Homo sapiens: one gene and its partners. The protein of the gene in region 3 purifies or fractionates together with the protein of the main gene of each other region. This does not show direct contact. Each region holds a gene or a part of one and is shown on either strand. Other genes may lie near its edges.

The links.
Region 1: the proteins of DNAJC19 (region 3) and YME1L1 purify together in Homo sapiens (affinity purification with mass spectrometry, with the first as the bait; one large-scale study listed by BioGRID). This does not show direct contact.
Region 2: the proteins of DNAJC19 (region 3) and DNMT1 purify together in Homo sapiens (affinity purification with mass spectrometry, with the first as the bait; one large-scale study listed by BioGRID). This does not show direct contact.

What each region holds. Positions count from the first base shown.
Region 1 is NC_000010.11:27,147,813-27,151,465, reverse strand, and holds part of YME1L1 (ATP-dependent zinc metalloprotease YME1L1), read left to right. Parts: intron 1-2,425; coding exon 2,426-2,560; intron 2,561-3,653. UniProt on the Homo sapiens protein: ATP-dependent metalloprotease that catalyzes the degradation of folded and unfolded proteins with a suitable degron sequence in the mitochondrial intermembrane region.
Region 2 is NC_000019.10:10,153,422-10,157,074, forward strand, and holds part of DNMT1 (DNA (cytosine-5)-methyltransferase 1), read right to left. Parts: intron 3,089-3,653; coding exon 2,970-3,088; intron 2,525-2,969; coding exon 2,432-2,524; intron 1,636-2,431; coding exon 1,484-1,635; intron 1,353-1,483; coding exon 1,165-1,352; intron 1,059-1,164; coding exon 872-1,058; intron 1-871. UniProt on the Homo sapiens protein: Methylates CpG residues. Preferentially methylates hemimethylated DNA. Associates with DNA replication sites in S phase maintaining the methylation pattern in the newly synthesized strand, that is essential for epigenetic inheritance.
Region 3 is NC_000003.12:180,983,116-180,986,796, forward strand, and holds the end of DNAJC19 (mitochondrial import inner membrane translocase subunit TIM14), read right to left. Parts: intron 2,882-3,681; coding exon 2,811-2,881; intron 1,596-2,810; coding exon 1,525-1,595; 3' UTR 594-1,524; downstream 1-593. UniProt on the Homo sapiens protein: Mitochondrial co-chaperone which forms a complex with prohibitins to regulate cardiolipin remodeling.

The DNA of each region.
Region 1 (3,653 bases), on a different chromosome or scaffold from region 3:
TATTAAATGGTCTGTACCCACAATAATGGCGTTAGTCCATTGATGAGGGCAGAGCCCTCCTGAACTAAATGCCTCTTAAAGGTCCCACCTCTTAACAGGATTACAGTGGCAACTAAGTTTGCCATTGTTCTCAACTCAAACTTGAGTTTTGAAGGAGATAAACACTGGAATTTTTACTGGAAGTGGGCCCTGATCCAGACCCCAAGAGAGGGTTGTTGGATCTCGCACAAGAATTCGAGAGAGTCGCCAGGCGCGGGGACTCACGCATGTAATCCCAGCACTTTGGGAGGCAGAGGCGAGCGGATCACGAGGTCAGGAGATCAAGATCCTGGCTAACATGGTGAAACTCCATCTCTACTAAAAATACAAAAAAATAGCTGGGTGTGGTGGCCTGCGCCTGTAGTCCCAGCTACTCGGGAGGCTGAGGCAGGAGAATCACTCGAACCCAGGAGGCGGTGGTTGCAGTGAGCCGAGATTGCATCACTGCACTCCAGTCTGGGCGACAAAGCGAGATTCCATCTCAAAAAAAAAAAAAAAAAAAAAAAGGCGAGAGAGTCTATAAAGTGAAAGCAAGTTTATTAAGAAGGTAAAGGAGTAAAGAATGGGGTACTCCATAGGCAGAGGAGCTGCTTGGGCTTGTCCACGAAGGATACCTACAGTTAGTTATTTCTTGATTTTATGCTAAACAATGTGTGATTATTCATAAGTTTTCAGGGAAAGGGGGACCCCTAAGGTTCCTCCCCTTTTTAGACCACATAGGGTAACTTCTTGATGTTGCCATGGCATTTTTAAACTGTCATGGTCTGGTGGGAGTGTCTTTTAGCATGCTAATGCATTATAATTAGCACATAATGAGCAGTGAGGACTAGCAGAAGTCACTCTCCTCTCCATCTTAGTTTTGGTGGGATTTGGCTGGCTTCCTTACTACAACCTGTTTTATCATCACGGTCTTTATGACCTGTATCTTGTGCCCACACCCTATCTCATCCTGTAACTTAGAATGCCTAACCTCCTGGGAATGCAACCCAGTAGGTCTCAGCCTCATTTACCCTCATTTTGCCCCTACTCCAGATGGAGTCACTCTGGTTCAAAAGTCTCTGACAGAACTGTAACAAGAAGTATAATTGTTACTCATTATTATAGCTGTTTGAGGATTAAATGGGATGATAGAAGTAAAGCCTGTAGTACTAAACCTGGTATATAATAAGAACCCATTTAATGTATTCATTTACTCAACAAATATTTATTAAGTAAATTTTTTTTTTTCTTGAGACAGGGTCTTGCCATGTCATTCAGGCTGGAGTGTGGTGGCATGATAGCTCACTGCAGCTTCAACTTCCTGGGCTCAAGTGTTTTTTTTGTTTTCATTTTTATTTATTTATTTATTTTGAGATGGAGTTTTGCTCTTGTCACCCAGGCTGGAATGCAATGGCATGATCTTGGCTCACTGCAACCTCCGCCTCCCAGGTTCGAGTGATTCTCCTGCCTCTGCCTCCCAAGTATCTGGGATTACAGGCGCCCAACACCATTCCTGGCCAATTTTTTTGTATTTTTAGTGGCGATGGGATTTCACCACGTTGGCCAGGCTGGTCTCGAACTCCTGACCTCAGGTATCTACCTGCCTTGGCCTCCCAAAGTGCTGGGATTACAGGCATGAGCCACCATTCCCGGCCTACTTACTATTTTTTTTTTTTTAAATGTTGGATGTATTTCATTCTGTGGTAGTTTCTTTTTTTTTTTTTTTTTTTTTTTTTGAGAGACAGGTCTCACCCTGTTGCCCTGGCTAGAGTGCAGTGGCATGATCACAGCTCACTGCAACTTCCGCCTCCTGAGATCAAGCAATTCTTCTACCACAGCCTCCCAAGTAGCTGAGACTACAGGCGCACACCATCACACCCATCTAATTGTTGTATTTTTTGGTAGAGATGGGGTTTCACTGTGTTGGTCAGGCTGGTCTTGAACTCCTGACCTCAAGTGATCCACCCACCTCGGTCTCCCAAAGTGCTGGGGTTACAGGCGTGAGCCACTGCACTCGACCAGTGGTATCATTTGTTTTGCCGCTCCCCTAATGCTGGATGTTTCCAGCTTTCTACTATTTTTTAAATGTTTCGATGAGAGTTGTTCTCTATGCATGTGCAAGTACTTGTCAGATTATTTCCTTATAATAAATTCCTAGAAGGTGGATTGCTACAAACAAGAAATGTATGTATTTTTGATACTTTTGATTTACATATTCAGAATAATATCCTGAAAGAACATACCAGTTTTCGTCTCACCAGCAGTAAATCTGAGTACTTACAGTTTTTAGTATACAGAGTTGATATATAATGTACCTTTAACTCTTAACAAATCCTGACAAAAAAAGGAGATTGTTCTGTTTATTTAAAAAAAAACTACTTAGTTTTTAACTTTTATCTTTTTCTAGGTTACAGTTCCTCTGAGTCATCTCATCAATGCCTTCCATACACCAAAAAACACTTCTGTTTCTCTCAGTGGAGTGTCAGTTTCTCAAAACCAGCATCGAGATGTAGTTCCTGAGCATGAGGCTCCCAGCAGTGAGGTAAGTCTTTATCCTGGTTGTGTGAGAAAGCCTTTTTGATATACAGTTGACCCTTAAACAAATGAAGGATTAAGGATATTGTCCCTCCCCCGTAGTCAAAAATTTGAGTATAATTTTTGACTCCTGAGAAACTTAACTACTAATACCCTACTATTGACCAGGAAGCCTTACCGATAAAATAAAGGGTCCATTAACATATATTTTGTATATTTTATGTATTGTGTACTGTATTCTTACAATAAAGTAAGATGGAGAAAATGTTATTAAGAAAATCATAAGGAAGAGAAAACATATTTACCATTCATTAAGTAGAAGTGGACCATCATAAAGATCTTCATTATCTTCAAGTTGAGTGGGCTGAGGAGGAAGAGGAGGGGTTGGTTTTTCTGTCTCTGGTGGCAGAGACCGGAGAAAGTCCACGTATCTGTGGATCTGTGCAGCTTTAATCTGTGTTGTTCAAGGATCACCTGAGGTCAGGAGTTCAAGACTAGCCTGACCAATATGGTGAAATCCCATCTCTACTAGAAATACAAAAATTAGCCGGGTGTGGTGGCGTGCGCCTGTAGTCCCAGCTACTCAGGAGGCTGAGACAAGAGAATAGCTTGAGCCTAGGAGGCAGAGGTCGCTGTGAGCCAAGATCGCACCACTGCACTCCAGCCTGGGTGACAACAAGACTCTGTCTCAAAAATAAATAAATAAATAAATATAAAAATGTAATCTCATTTTTTGGTTTAATCTAAAAAAAAACACCTGTTTTTACAGGGAAGTGGAATAGGTAGGGATTTAAGAAGTAAATAAAACTCTTAAAAAAATAAAGGACCAGCAGATTTAGGGAGCAGCTCATACTTCTAGGGCTGAGATAGAGTCAGGAAGAGTTCTCCATCCCCAGGGCTGAGATCCTGACATTGTTGGCGAAGGCATGGCCTTGGCTCACTGAATGGTAGAAAAGTTGCTGTGATGTCATGCCAGGGTAACGTGCTAGAAATCTGGGAAGTCTGCCCTCTAGGATACTGGGAAAAGCTGTTCCTGGGGATGTGTCCTACTAGAGAAGCTGTTACACGAGTGGTGCCAGGGGAAGCTGCTAGGTCCTGCT
Region 2 (3,653 bases), on a different chromosome or scaffold from region 3:
TCAGGAGTTTAAGACCAGCCTGGCCAACATGGTGAAACCCCATCTCTACTAAAAATACAAAAAAAATTAGCCGGGTATGGTGGCGGGTGCCTATAATCCCAGCCACTCGGGAGGCTGAGGTGGGAGAACTGATTGAACCCGGGAGGCGGAGGTTACGGTGAGCTGAGATGGTGCCACTGCACTCTAGCCTGGGTGACAGAGAGAGACTGTCTCAAAAAAATTAAAAAAAAAAAAAAAAGATTTTAGAAGTTATAAAACATTGGACACACGTGTGTTAACCAAGAAAAATAAAATAAAACCAAAATAACAATGGTGAGGACATGCAGGCTCCTGTTAAGAGATGCCAGCGGGGATCAAAAGCAAAGCCCTGAAGCCAGTCTTTATCCAAAAGAAAGTCAGGTAATAGGTATCAAAATAGTCCTGGTCTTTGGGTCATAGGACTAGGAAGTTAGTTCCTCCTGAGTGAAGTAAACATATATTTTAAAAACTCACAGAAAGGGACGCCTCCTGAGGGCCTCAAATCTAAGCTGGACAAAGTGCCCACTTAGATGTGAATACCCCTTTAGCAGTCCAACAGGGGCCTTCAGACTGTGAGATGCAGGCACAGCAGAGCCACCCAGAAGCCAGGCTCTTCAATTAAGGACAGTGGCATTATCAGCAAAGCACCCAAGCATGCCTCTGTGGACATCTGTCCTATTGACGTTCAATGAAGTATGCAGGGTCCTCCCAGACCACTAACTAATTTCTGTCTCAGGGGTCACATTTGAGCAGCCAGAGTCTCAAGCCACAGAGAGAAAGATGGAGCAGTCCTCAGATCAGGCCAGAGGCTGGGCCACCTTAGGGGAGCGGGAGCACCCACAGGTGAGGTTACCTCACAGACGCCACATCGCCGGCGCTTAAAGGCGTTCTCCTTGTCTTCTCTGTCATCCTTTTCAATTTGCTCTGCGAAGAAAGTATCGAAGATCTGGTAGACCAGCTTGGTGGTGGTGGCTTTCGTGGGTCCCCTGTCCTTCTCCCTGGTAGAATGCCTGATGGTCTGCCGCCTCGCCTGGGCTCGCCTACGGGAGAGGTTCCAGCATCTCAGAGGACTGGGACAGAGGATGTGGGCCATGCTCTACCCTCCCCGGTCTCCAGTCTTCACTCTGGTCCCTGCCGCATCCTTACCTCTGTCCCAGCGTGACCCCAGCCAGCTTGATCAGGTCCCGCATGCAGGGTGTCAGGAAGATGGGCTGCTCATCACTGTCCCCGGCCTCGTCATAACTCTCCACCTGCTCCACCACAAACTGCGCGTGTCGCAGGAGGGAGTCCTCTGTGAAGCGGTTCAAGTTGAGGCCAGAAGGAGGAACCGTGGTCTTGAAAGAGAACAGGTTTCTCTCATGCTTAAGCCAAACTGGCCTAAATCCAACTGAAGAACAGTGTCTGCTGGTTCTGAAGGCAAGTTTCCAGTGGGAATCCCGGATGCTGAGGACCCTCGATCTCTTACCTCGATCTTGTTGATCAGGTCCTCATAGGTCGAGTCGGAATTGCTCTGCAGGAACTCCACCACAATCTTGCTGATGTAGATCTTCTCCTGCATCAGCCCAAATATGGGCGCATACTCGGGACTGGGATCCATCAGAATGTATTCGGCAAATGCTGGGGTGAACAGAGGAGGTGTGGAAAAGGGGCTGGAATCTGATGGCGCCTACAGTGGCCACAGGGCATGGAGGAGTCTACCAAACTCACCCAACAGTCTAAAAGTCATCCCGTACCCAAATGTCAGAAACATAGGGCACAACACATCATAGCTGGCTTGTTCTGAAGAAGCCTGTCTGAGCCAGCCAGAGAGCGAAGACTAGCTGAGTAGGCCTTCATTGAGCTCATCTCTGGTGTTTGGAATTCAGTCTGGGTTTGGGTTGCAAGAATAAGACCTGCTCTTTTTTTTTTTTCAGGGGAGGACAGAGTCTTGCTCCGTCACCCAGGCTGGAGGGCAGTGGCGTGATCTCGGCTCACTGCAACCTCTGTCTGCTGGGTTCACGTGATTCTCCTGCCATAGCCTCCCAAGTAGCTGGGATTACAGGTATGCACCACCATGCGTGGCTAATTTTTGTATTTTTGGTAGAGAGGGGGTTTCACCATGTTGGCCAGGCTAGGCTGGTCTCGAATTCCTGGCCTCAAATGATCCCCCCAACTCGGCCTCCCAAAGTGCTGGGATTACAGGTGTGAGCCACCATATCCGGCCAAGACCTGCTCTTACAACTGGAGAGTCAGTTCCAGAGCCAGTCATAACTAACACAAGAGGCTACCCCAACTGAACCTGCTAAGGTTCCCAGTCACATGGCCTTCTGCAAGCCTGCTGAGAATTCCCACCAGAGCCCCGTCAGCCCCCAGGAAGGAGAACATGAAGGCCCCTTTCAGACCCCGGCCAGCCTATGATGGGCCACACACTTACAGGTGCTGAAGCCGATGAGGGCCTTTTCACCTCCATCAAAGCCAGTGATCCACCATTCATTTATGGGGCCAAGATTTTTGCCATTAACACCACCTAGAGCAGAAAAAGGAAATGGACTAAAGGCTCTGACTCACATCCCAAACCCAGGAGGCGCTCTAAGCGCCCACTCAGCAGACATCCCATCAGCCAGGTCGGGTGCTCCTCAGTCATCACAATGACTTGGCCTACAGCTGCTCCTGGCACAAAGTCTCACACCCTAACTTTAAGAGGCAGCAGCAACTCCAGCTGACTATTGCTTCATAAGTATGTTTTTTATTTATACATATATATAAGTATATATGTATACTATATATATATGCTATATATTTTTTTTTAATAGAGGCAGGCTCTTGCTATGTTGTCCAGGCTCGTCTCAAACTCCCGGGCTCAAGTGATCCTCTGGCCTCAGACCCCCAAAGTGCTAGGATTACAGATGTGAGCCACCCTGCCTGGCTGTTTTTAAAGTGTGCCCCAAACATAATCCCGGACTATTCCTTACCTTCAAGAGATGGGTCATCATCATAGATTGGTTTTGCTGAACCAGAAAAGAAGAGTTCGATATTCTTCTCGATGAGGCCGGTGTCGATGGGACACAGGTGACCGTGCTTACAGTACACACTAGACAGGAAACAAAGCACATGCTTACCAGCTAAGCCGTGAAGGCGGGTCTTCGTGCAGACTTCAGATCAGGCACGAGGCAATGAGAGAATGTACAAGTCTGACACTCTTTTTTTGTTTGTTTTTGAGACAGAGTCTTGCTCTATCCCTCAGGCTGGAGCGCGATGGCATAATCTTGGCTCACTGCAGCCTCCACCTCCCGGGTTCAAGTAATTCTCCTGCCTCAGCCTCCCGAGTAGCTGGGATTACAGGCCTGAACCACCATGCCCGGCTAATTGTTGTATTTTTAGTAGGGACGGGGTTTCACTATGTGTAGCAGGCTGGTCTCAAACTCTTTATCTCCAGTGATCTACCCACCTCAGCCTCCCAAAGTGCTGGGATTACAGGCTGAACCACCATGCCTGGCCCCGACACTCATTTTTTGGTTGCGGGAACACTGGATTAAGACAGCGTTCTATCACCCAGAGTTTCTACCTTATTCTCCCACCTAAGCATCAAGTGTATGTGTGTCTGCAACAGCAACACCAAAAGATCAGTCAGACTTACAGTGCGGGAAATACCGGTT
Region 3 (3,681 bases):
TTAATTGAAAGTTAATGAAATACTAAAGAATGTTTTCAAGCAGAAACAGGTCGATCAAGGTTATATACTGACTGGCAGACAATATTGTGACCAAAGGGTCACAGAATCTGTATTTCTCTTAGGAACTTGTTCCTTATTTGCTAATTCAGTGTTCATAGCCACCTTAAAGAACAGAATTACCACAAACAAGAACCAGCTGTACTTTCATGTCTCCTTGTCCCTGGAAATAATTTATCCTGCATAAAAGCCTTAGAAGCTAGTGTTTCATCATACACTAAATCATAACAGACTCCATCAGATTTTAAACGAGGGTATTGGATAGAAAACACAAAGAGCAGATATACCTTTACTTTATAAGGCAGATAAATATTACCTCCACTATTTTTTTAACCTCAAAAGTCCTTGTATCCTCCAATAATTAAGAAACTTATGATGACTTAAGGAAGTTTAGACGGTAGGTAGTATAATTTATCATCTTAGAGCTACACATAAGAAATACTCCTGTTGAGAAATACATACTAGTTTATACCAGATGTTTTATACAGGTCCTCTTAAGATCCTTATATATTTTATGTTAGACAAACAGTAAGTAATTTGCCTTTAAACATCATTTAAATTTATTAGTGTATAAATTCTAAAGAGTCCAAATTAAATATGTTGATATTGAGAACATTTCAGTTTTCAGTTTTGCTAACAGGGTTTAAGCTTAATCATAACAATTGCAGAAGTTTGATTATGTCAAGAAATAGCCAACTGAAGGAATAATTTATAAATGGTCATTACCTTTAAGGGGCTAGCTGAATACAATGTAAATACTCATGCCTGTAATCCCAGTACTTTGGGAGGCTGAGGCGGGAGGACTGCTTAAACCCAGGAGGTTGAGGCTGCAATGAACTGTGATTGTACCAGACCTGTACTCTGAAATCTTTATCATACTATTTTTAATGCATGAAATAAAAATGGTTTATATGTACATAGAATACACACACACACACACCCCTAGGTCAATTTCTTAGGTCTCAGTTGTGGTTAAATTCACTTTTAAATACAAGGTTCCAAGTATCCAAGTTGCCAGGCCAGTTGCCTGTACCTGGAACAGCCTTTCCACCGAATAAGAAGAGTCCCTACTTAAACAGCTTAAGCTAATTTCCATCATACTATTTATCACAGTCTAATTACCAGTTTATCAGTCTCCCATTAAAGTGGGGGCTCCCTGAGAGCAAGGACTGTCATCTTCACTTTGCCTTGAAAAGTAGACATAGGTCCCAAATTATCTGCTAAATGAGTAATGAACAATATTTCTATTCAGAAGGTGTGTGCTTGCCCATAATTAATACGCAAATATTCTAAACTATAATCTGATTTAAAATCCCCAAATTTAAACAAGAAAATTATACCAAGGCTTTGAGATTTAGCTTGTGCTAAATCATTTTTTAAAATTGTAGCTCTGAGGCATTTTATTATAAAAACTTAGTACTCATATACATAAACTAATACGAACTTAAAATTCATCATACATTTACTTCATTTTTTAGCTTGACCTTCTAGTAAATCTTTAGCTTCATTGATTTTGGCTGCTATATAAGGAGATCCTCCTATAGGAAGAAAGAAAAAAGAACAGTTACAATATGGATTCTCAATTTCTGCTTGGTAAAAAGCTACTCTTGTTTCAAGGACTCCAATGCTTATCTGAGGGAGATTTAGCAGAAACAGTGTTTTAATTTTTAAAAAATAACCCTGACACTGCAACTGGATGACCAAATATATGGTAATATATGTGACCAATGAGAAATGAAGTAATTTACGTGGGAGATATTTCTACAAAAATAACACCTTTTTAGAAAGCTTAAACTGATAGAAATAGGATTTCTATCATATATATTAGATATATATGTATATGCCTTTGAACTGGTGTTAGCCTATTCATGATTACAGGTCATAAATGAACATCAATTATACCATGTTATTTTAATACCATGATATTCTCAGAGGCTTCTGAGCTGTTTACTGGAAAGATCCCAGTTTGCTTTACATCCTTTTTCTGTCCAGTTTTTCTTTTCCTGTTATCTACTGTCCCTTCACAATGTCATCTACAGCTGCTTTCCTACGAATCTGCTGGAGGAGTGATTCTCAAAGTATGGTCCTAAGACCAGCAAGAAATAACAGGAAATTTAGTATAAATGCATATTTATGGGGCTCCACTGCCGACCTACTGAGTCAGAAGCCCTCCATATAAAACAAGCTAAATTTCATAAAAGATACTGTGAAGTAGATATCAAACAATTATAACCCTGTTTAAAATGTCAAAACCCTTTTTATTAATGAAAGCCCTCTCCTGTATAAGTAAAAGGATACAAACACTAGAACATGAATTCTGTGGTCTATTTTTTGGTATTCAAAGAAATTCTTGCTTTCCTTCAACACAGCCAAGGCTGCATAGAAGTCTATCACAAACGAATAAATAAATCCCATAAGTTTCTATCTAGGTAATCTCCGTTTCAAGGTATCTAAAATGGATAAGGAAAAATTACATTTTAGTTTTACGAAATTTAACGTTTTAATTATAATAAATGTAGGCCAGAAAAACCCACAAAACATAGTAATAGTAGCACTTACATCTGCTCATTCTGTAAGTAAAGTTTTCACTTAATTTCTTTTAAGACACCAAAAATATATGGCTCCAGCCTAGGAGACAGGACTTACAGATTTAAGTGTTACCTTTCTAATAGCCAGGAATTTGAGATAAAATTATCCCATTAATAACTATTGGTCACACCAACAACATCAACGAGAATTTAATGACTACTTACCTTTGTCAGGATGATTTAAAAGCATAATTCGTCGATGAGCATCTCTTATTTTCCCTTTATTGGCAGTAGGGCTAATTAAAAAAAGAAATGGTATTTACTTCATCCTACTTCTGCATCACATCAAAAAACTGTACATAAAGGCCAATTAAAGACACTGTGAAACTGTAGTAAATTAACACAACAGTATGAAAAGCTGTTTAGAAACCTCAACACACCCAATGCGTATCCTAAATTGGGAAACTACTTAGAAAAGTAAGGCACTCTCAAAAATGTGTTGAACTTGCAGTACCCATTACAACAGTCCTTTTATTGATAAGAAACGCATGTTTAAGGATTTGAAAATGAAGAAGGAAGAGTTTTGTTTTTTTTTTTTTTTGAGATAGTCTCACTCTGTCCCCTAGGCTGGAGTGCAGTGGCTTGATCTTGGTTCACTGCAACCTCGGCCTCCCGGGTTCAAGCGATTCTCCTGCCTCAGCCTTCCGAGTAGCTGGGATTACAGGTGTGTGCCATTACGCCTGGCTAATTTTTGTATTTTAAGTAGAGACGGGGTTTCACCATGTTTGCCAGGCTGGTCTTGAACTCCTGACCTCAAGTAATCCACTGGCCTTGGCCTCCCAAAGTGCTGGGATTACAGACGTGAGTCACCGCGCCCGGTTGAAGGCAGAATTTCACCACAAAAAAAATGTCAGTTACAGAGAACAACACTGAACACTGTGATAATCTGCTGAGGAGTCTATCTTTAAATAAATGAAAAAGTGCCTGTGTTTTAGTAAACACTCTAGGAAAAAAGAAAAAGTGCTTAAGTGCTAGTGTGCCTTCTCATTTGAAGGATTGTTTACATCTTAAAAATAACATGAAGGAACAGTACAGT